Linked DNA regions of Homo sapiens. The protein of the gene in region 1 purifies or fractionates together with the protein of each later gene. This does not show direct contact. Each region holds a gene or a part of one and is shown in the gene's direction. Other genes may lie near its edges.

Region 1 (4,031 bases):
AAAGAAATCTTTTCTTCATCCTTCATGAATGTCCTGTCACAAGGTTTATCAGCAGGCATTCTTTTTTTTTGTTCTGTTTAGAAATAGGGCCTCACTCCATTGCCAAGGCTGGAATGCAGTGGTGCAATCATAGCTCACTGTAACCTCAAACTCCTGAGCTCAAGCAATCCTCCCACCTCAACCTCCTAAGCACCTAGGACTAAAGGCATGTACCACAACACCTGGCCAAGTTGTTTTCATTTTTTCTAGAGAAAGGGTCTTGCTATGTTGCCCAGGTTGGTCTTGAACTCCTGGCCTCCAGCAATCCTCCCTCCTCAGCTTCCCAAAGTGTTAGCATTCCAGGAGTGAGCCACGGGGGCCCAGCCTAGACATTCTTTAGTACTATAGTAATTCAGATAAGATGCTCTTGAAAGAACACTTGCCCAGTAACGGCAATGTCTCCCAAGTAGCTGGGATTACAGGTGTGCGTCACCACCACCGGCTAACTTTTGTATTTTTAATAGGGACAAGGTTTCGCCATATTGGCCACGCTGAGGTCGAACTTCTGACCTCAGGTGATCCGCCCCCTCAGCCTCCCAAAGTGCTGGGATTACAGGTGTGAGCCACCGCTCTCAGCCGCGTGTTTTAATCATAATACTTTGGTCTTTTTTTTTTTTTTTCGTAAATACTTTCCTCTTTTTTTTTTTTTTTTTTTTTTTTGAGATGGAGTTTCACTCTTTTTGCCCAGGCTGGAGTGCAGTGGCGTGATCTGGGCTCACTGCAACCTCCACCTCCCGGATTCAAGCGATTCTCCTGCCTCAGCCTCCTGAGTAGCTGGGGTTACAGGCGCCCGCCACCACGCCTGGCTAATTTTTGTACTTTTAGTAGAGACGAGGTTTCGCCATGTTGGCCAGGGTGGTCTTGAACTCCTGACTTCAGGTAATTCACCAGCCTCGACCTCCCAAAGTGCCGGAATTACAGGTGTGAGCAATCGCGCCCAGGCTTTTTTTTCTTCTTCTTTTAGAGTCAATTAAGACTGGGAAAGCGAAAATCCTAGCGCTACTTGGGACCAGCAGCTATCAGTTGGTCGGAGGCTCGAAGTGGTGGTGCATGGCCGGGCTGTCTGTGATTCTTAGGATGGGAAGCTTGACCTTGGCGGGCTCACCCTCTCATCTGGGTCAAGGGGCACATTCTCGGTGGCCTGATGACTGGGAGGGAGCGGAAGAGGGCGGGGCCGGGGTGGGGCCGCGGCGCCGGGACTGCGGGTGCTCGGCCGGAGCGCTCCAGCCGCTGGTCCCCGGGAGACCCTGTGCCCCTAAATCGCGGTCCACTGCGCGCGTCAGGTGAGTAGAGCGGCGGCGGGGAGTCGCGCTAGCGGTAGTAGAGGCTGATGTTGGATGTTGTCCCCACTCCTCTGACTCTTCCGCAGGCCAGGGGAGCACTGCGCCCCTAATCTTGGAGGGGCTTCCAACCTCTGGGGTCCTCCGGGGAAACGTGGGTTAGTCTGGGGTGTATCCAGGTGCCCTGTCCACTGTGGGCACTCTGGGGATTCCGGGCCGAGGAAGGGCTCCTGGCACGTGTTGAAAAAGTCGGCATCCCAGAAGGAAGATTCTGGGCGGATGGGCATCGGGGAAGGTAGTCCCAACCAATGGGACCGTTTCTGAGCACATAAGCGCATTCAGTGGGTGCTAACAAGCGCCTGCTTTGCCAGGCGACAGTGAGCAAAACCGGCTTTGTTCCCGGCCACCGGAAGCTTCGAGGCTGGGGTTCCGGATCTGGGCGCCCAATGACAAACTAAGCGCGGAGGACAGGGCCAGGAGCGCCCACCAGGGCGGCGATCTGGTGGGTAGGTGCAGGGCAATGGCTGGAAAGGGTCCCCGAAGCCCTGAGCAGAGACCAAAGGGCCGTGCGACTGCAGGAAGGCCATTTTGCTTGGCTGACAGGCGGAAAACTCACGTGGCTGGAGTAGCAGGGTTGGTGACGACAAGGGTGAATCCCACTAAGCATTGCAACTGTTTGCGGTGTGAGGGGTGAGGGGGATTCTCATCATTCTCAGAATTGCTGTGGATAAAGGGTTTTGGGTTGGAGAGAGACTGGGTGCACTCAAAGGACTGAAAGATGGCGACGACACATTCCCTCAGAGGATTTACATTCTGGAAGGGTGGGGACAGGCCCGGGTACAGATAAGCCCGCAGGCGGCCTCCAGCTCTTACAGTCGAAAGTCTGATGAGTTATGCCCAGTCTCCTTCCTCCTCCCGCCGGCATGAGGTTTGGGGCCCTGTGGATGAAGGAAGTTCATGGGAGGCAAACGTGCCTGGGCAAGCAACAGCCGCAGAGATTCAGTCCCCACGGGGGTTAGAATCCACACTTAGGGCCTCTGCCTACCGCCTCCAGCAAATGCCATCTTGAGGACTAGCGGCAGCAGTAGGTCTTCTCTGCCAGAGAACTGGAAGGCCAGGTTCTTGAGGGCACTGTTACTAAGGCGTTTTTTTTTGTTTGTTTGTTTGTTTGTTTGTTTTTGAGACGGAGTTTCACTCTCATTTCCCTGGCTGGAGTGCAATGGCGCGATCTCCGCTCACCGCAACCTCTGCCTCCCGGGTTCAAGCGATTCTCCTGCCTCAGCCTCCCTAGTAGCTACGATTACAGGCATGCGCCACCACGCCGGGATAATTTTGTATTTTTAGTAGAGACGAGGTCCATGTTGGTCAGGCTGGTCTCAAACTCCTGACCTCAGGTGATCCGCCCGCCTCGGCCTCCCCAAGTGTTGGGATTACAGGCTGAGCCACCGTGCCCAGCCTTATTAAGGCTGTTTTGAAGTGCAGTTGGCTGGAAAGTGGAAGAATAATCCAAGATCTGCATGCCTCATAAAAGGAGTGCGAATGGTTTTGAAAGACAGGAAAGGAAAGGGAGAGAGAGGAAAGAAAGAGAGAGGAAGAAAGGAAGGAAATCAAATTCATATCCCAGGAATGCACCTTTCATGACAACATTTTGGAGATCCAATTAACTCTATTCCTCGAGGGCGTTTTTCCTTGCTGGTATTTTCAGTTCTATTAACACTTCTCAAAAAGTGAAAGGAAAAAATAGTCAACAGGGTTTTTTGGTCTTTATTCTTTTCTTTCTATCTCTAGTAAGGGAGATGTGGGTGAGTGGCTGTCAGCAGGAAAAGGTGAGAGTTCAGCTATGTTTGCATCTGAGCAGGAAATTTCCAAGGATGAGCAGGGAACTCCAGTGCTGGGCTCATTGTGAGCCCTGAATAAGTGATTGCTCTTGGGTTGTTAGCAGTATTCTTCACAAAGATCTGTATATACAGTGGTTCCCCTTATCCACAGGTGATATGTTCCAAGAGCTCTAGTGGATACTTTGTTTTTGTTGTTGTTTGAGGCAGAATCTCGCTCTGTCACCCAGGCTGGAGTACAGTGGCACAGTCTTGGCTCACTGCAACCTTCACCTCACGGGTTCAAGTAATTCTGCCTCAGCATCCTGAGCAGCTGGGACTACAGCGTGCCACCACGCCCAGCTAATTTTTGTATTTTCAGTAGAGACGGGGTTTCACCATGTTGGCCAGGCTGGTCTCAAATTCCTGCCCTGAAGTGATCCACCGCGCCCCACCCCAGTGGATACTTTGAAACCATGAATAGTACCAAACCCTGTATACACTATGGTTTTCTTTTTCTATACATACATAATAATGATAAAGTTTAATTTACAAATTAGGCATGGTAAGAGATTGACAACAATAACTAGTAATAAGATAGAACAATTACAGCAATATATTGTAATAAAAGTTGTATGAATGTGGTATCTCTCTCAAAATAATTTATATTGTAAATCTTAGCAACCTCAGCATATGATTATTTTTTCTTTCCTTAAGACAAGAATTTTTACCTTTTTATTTTATGGCTTCTCTTTGCATATCTGAATTTCCAGCGTCTCTACTCTTGTGCTTTTGGGTCATTATTAAGTAAAATAAGGCATTCTTGAGCACAGGCAACTGCTATACTACAGTAGTCAACCTGGTAACTGAGATGGCTAGCTACTAAGGAACTAATGGG
Region 2 (3,928 bases), on another chromosome or scaffold:
AAGCAGTGGCTGGGCGTGTGGTTCATGCTTATAATGCCAGCACTTGGGGAGACAGGCGGGAGGATCGTTTGAGCCCAGGAGTTCAAAACCAGCCTGGGCAACATAGCAAGACTCCATCTCTATTAAAATATATATATATTTTTTTAATTGTTGAAAGTATAGTATGAATGAAAAATACAGCGATTTAACAGTTGTGACATTTGCAGTGTTTGTTTTTTCTACTTCTTTTTTCCCATTGATCCATAATAAAGTCAATTGTAAACATGGCAATTTATTTTCAATATCACAGCATATTCCTCAAAGTTGGTACAATACCATTGTAGCATCTAAGAAAATAAACAGTAATTTTCAGACATTATCATATATTATTCATATCCAGATTTCTCTCATTTGTCCCCTTAATGTCTTTTATAGCTTTCCTTAAAACACTAGGGTCCAAAGTTCACACACAGCATTTTATTGTATTCTGTCTTTAGTATCTTCAAGTTTAAAAGAATCTCCTTATTCTTTTCCTTCTTTTCTCTTCTCCCTGCATTCTTCCTAACATAGTATCAGTTTATATAGTAATTTATGAAGTGTCAATTTGGATTTTATGGGCTATTTTCAAGTCTGTGGATGAGCTTGGAAGCAAGGATGTCAGTGAACTGACATCCCTAAGAGTTGATGTACTATTTTGTGTTCCTGTGGATATATGTGTTTTGTTTTGTTTTTTGTTTTTTTAACAGAGAAAAGAAGAGTGGATGAAAGTACTCATAATTTTAGATTATAGCTGAGGTGTATATTTGTGAGAGAGGGGAGGAGGAGAGAAGTGGTTAGTTTTGCTACATTTCAGCCACATCTAATTTATAAAATTATTCATAGTTACAGATCTATCACAGATCAGCAAATATTTGAATTGCCACCTGTGCTGTTGTCACTAACTAGTAAATTAATCAACTCATCTCAAAATATTCTCAGTGCTAAATTGAATTAATCAGGGATGGCTAGATTATCTGCCACTGTGACACAAAGAGATTTAGAAAATCTCAAATAATTCCTGTAAGTGCTTATACTGGGGCCTCATTTAATTAAAATATAGGGCAAACATTGGATAAACCAGGTAATTTAAAGTGGCTAATTTAATCATCAGCTGGTATGCTGTGCTCAGAATGTTGTTTATATGTATACAGTGTGGGTCTGAGTCAGTGATTATATCTTTAGATGAAAAATAAGAATATAGATTGGTTTTCGTTGGTTTAGGTTTGGGTTTGTTATCCTTGTTTTCCCTACTCCATTTCTTACATAAATGTTTTTTATTTAGCAAATGTGAGAAGTTAAGTACCATGAATTAGATACGATCCAGTGTATTACCGTGTATTTTTATATAGCTTTATAAAATTGGAAAAATAACCTTAGATTGCTATGTTGGCAATATGAACAAGAACATAGAGGAAATAGCCCTAATCTAAGTAGAGCTTAGGAAAGTTTTTAACAGGGGTGAGTGACACTGAAGCAAACTAGCCCTTGAAAGATGAGTAAGAATTCACCAAAGAAAAAAAATAATTGAGACAATTTTTTTTTAAGTAAAATATTTTTATAAAGCTTTTAATGCTACTTTCTGACCTACAGGTGATGAAGGGAGTATGCCAGCAGATATAGCCACATTACTAAAAACATCAATGGGCCTGTGAAATAAGAACTGTGAACTCTCAATTGATGAGGAAATATCAACTTGGTGCACTCAAGGACATTTACATTATGATGACCATGGGGTTTATGAACATTTATAACTTTTTATAATTTCCATATTACATTTCTCATAGTATGGACAACTTTTTGCCACTAACTGAATTCTCCAAATACTCACACGTGAAATTTCAAAAAAGAAGCCACAAATATGTAGTTCTGAAGATGTTGAATAATCATTTTACAAAGCAGTTTTCTGAATGGGGATTAGTTGGTGATTGTTTGTAACAAATATGCTAATGCTTTAGAAATGTCAGTATTTTTGTAATTATTTCTACCTCCAAATATATATATATTGTCTTTCACTGGATAATGTGTGTAGATTTTTACATGTGCCTTATTTGACAATGCTTATGTCTTGTTTTTGCTTGTCTCATTTGAAGTTCTTTTTTATTATGTTAAAGAATGCAGCTGTATAGATTATATAGCTTTCATTTTATTGCTATTTGAAGCAGATGTTCACCAATGTCAGCAAGAACTCAACCTGAATTTAAAGGTGGCATTCCATATACTAACATCCCCCAGGTCCTCTCAAGTACTTCTGCTGAAACAAATTTATTTGGCTAGGCACTAAGTTGTTTTCCAGTGAATAGTAACTAAAGAAGCCCCTACCTTGCTCCATGGATTAATTCCTTCTGTTCATTTTCCAACTGCACTAATTGTGCATATTACTCTGCCTAATCTTGTGCATGTTTTCATTGATTTCCCTCTCCCGGCTTTTGCTTCTCTTGAAACTGTTGCCCAGTCACTTCTGCTCCAATTCTCTTCCTCTCTAAATAGTAGTTTATTACTGCCACATCTCCATGCATCAGCAAAATGTTGGTGACATTTTTCTAGCCTGGCAGAACAGATTACTTAAAGCTATTTCATTTCAAAGCAGACTGAATGTGACTTCATCTAAAGGCAGCATTAGGTACTGCATGGAAATAGGTCATTAACTTGAAACTCTTATCAAAATATATTTTACCAGTTTCCAGAATTTCCAGTACAGGACCGCCTGAAGAGAGAGCCATTGTTCAATTCCAATTCAGTGTGAGTGACAAAGTGAAATTTAGAAGTGAAGTTGTCTATTTGATATTTAACTCTTTATTAAATCTTTCTTTAAATTTCTGCCTGTCAGTCTATATTGCTGTTTTTATTATACATCAGTTTCTTTGTATAACTTGTGAGTTCCATGTGTTTTGTTTTTATTATGTAAATATCATTATAAATAAACTTATTTATAAATCAAAGATTTGTTAATTTTTGGAAATCATGCTTTTCAAAGCATCCTAACTTGCTAAGATGCTAGGTAGTACGACCCTCTGGATTTGGAAGGCAAATAAAACTCTTACAGTGATTATTTAGATATTAAAGACTGAGAACTCACGGCTTAACCCCAGTCTTGATGGTATATTGAACAGACTGAATATATTTTACCATTACAGGGCTAAAAGGAGTCTTCATGTGTTAATACTACCTCCTTGTACATCACTATACCCAAATCAGTTATTCAAATTGTTAGGAATTTTACCTTTTAAAATCTCATAATGGATATCTCATGTTTTCTGTATTAATGTATTTTCAATGATAGGCTGTTTCTTTTTTTGTTGTTATTGTTGTTGTTGTTATATCCATACTTTTATCTCTAATGAAATGTAGTTGGGTTCTTCCTGTAATGCGCTATTATGTCTTGGGCTTAATAAAAATATTTGTGATCATAAGTTGTATTTTCACACCCTTTTTAATAGTTTCTAACCCTTCCTCCTCCTACCCTTAAAATCATATAATATTGGGCACAAATGAGATTATCTTATGTGCTTAATATTGCCTGTTTGCCAGTAAATTGGAACTTACTACTTAGGATGTATTCTCATTGGTTCCTTCATTGGACTGATGTCAGTAAATACTGTAACCCATTATCACTACAGAGCAAATGAAGCGAGAGTTGGAGTAATATCTTGACCAACTGAAGCATTTTTTAAATGCAAGCTACACAAAGAAGACATGCCTTATGCATTTTTATAACTGTTTGGGACCCCCATAGAGTTTTAACTTTATGCCAGTAGATACTTACTTTGAAACATTACTGTAGTTCCTAACAGTTGGCATTATCGTGTAGTGGAGAGACGGGGTATGAGGAGATTTGGTTTCCATTTGTGTGACCTTACGTGTGATACTTCACAGTCCATAAATTTAAGGAATTCGGATTGTTTTAACTCTT

Evidence for each region. Proteins that work in one complex are often made in the same cells at the same time.
Region 2: the proteins of ZFP57 (region 1) and SMARCAD1 purify together in Homo sapiens (co-immunoprecipitation; one large-scale study listed by IntAct). This does not show direct contact.

Annotation. Positions count from the first base shown.
Region 1 is NC_000006.12:29,678,353-29,682,383, reverse strand, and holds the start of ZFP57 (zinc finger protein 57 homolog), read left to right. Parts: upstream 1-1,231; 5' UTR 1,232-1,322; intron 1,323-4,031. UniProt on the Homo sapiens protein: Transcription regulator required to maintain maternal and paternal gene imprinting, a process by which gene expression is restricted in a parent of origin-specific manner by epigenetic modification of genomic DNA and chromatin, including DNA methylation.
Region 2 is NC_000004.12:94,287,865-94,291,792, forward strand, and holds the end of SMARCAD1 (SWI/SNF-related matrix-associated actin-dependent regulator of chromatin subfamily A containing DEAD/H box 1), read left to right. Parts: intron 1-1,608; coding exon 1,609-1,670; 3' UTR 1,671-3,428; downstream 3,429-3,928. UniProt on the Homo sapiens protein: DNA helicase that possesses intrinsic ATP-dependent nucleosome-remodeling activity and is both required for DNA repair and heterochromatin organization.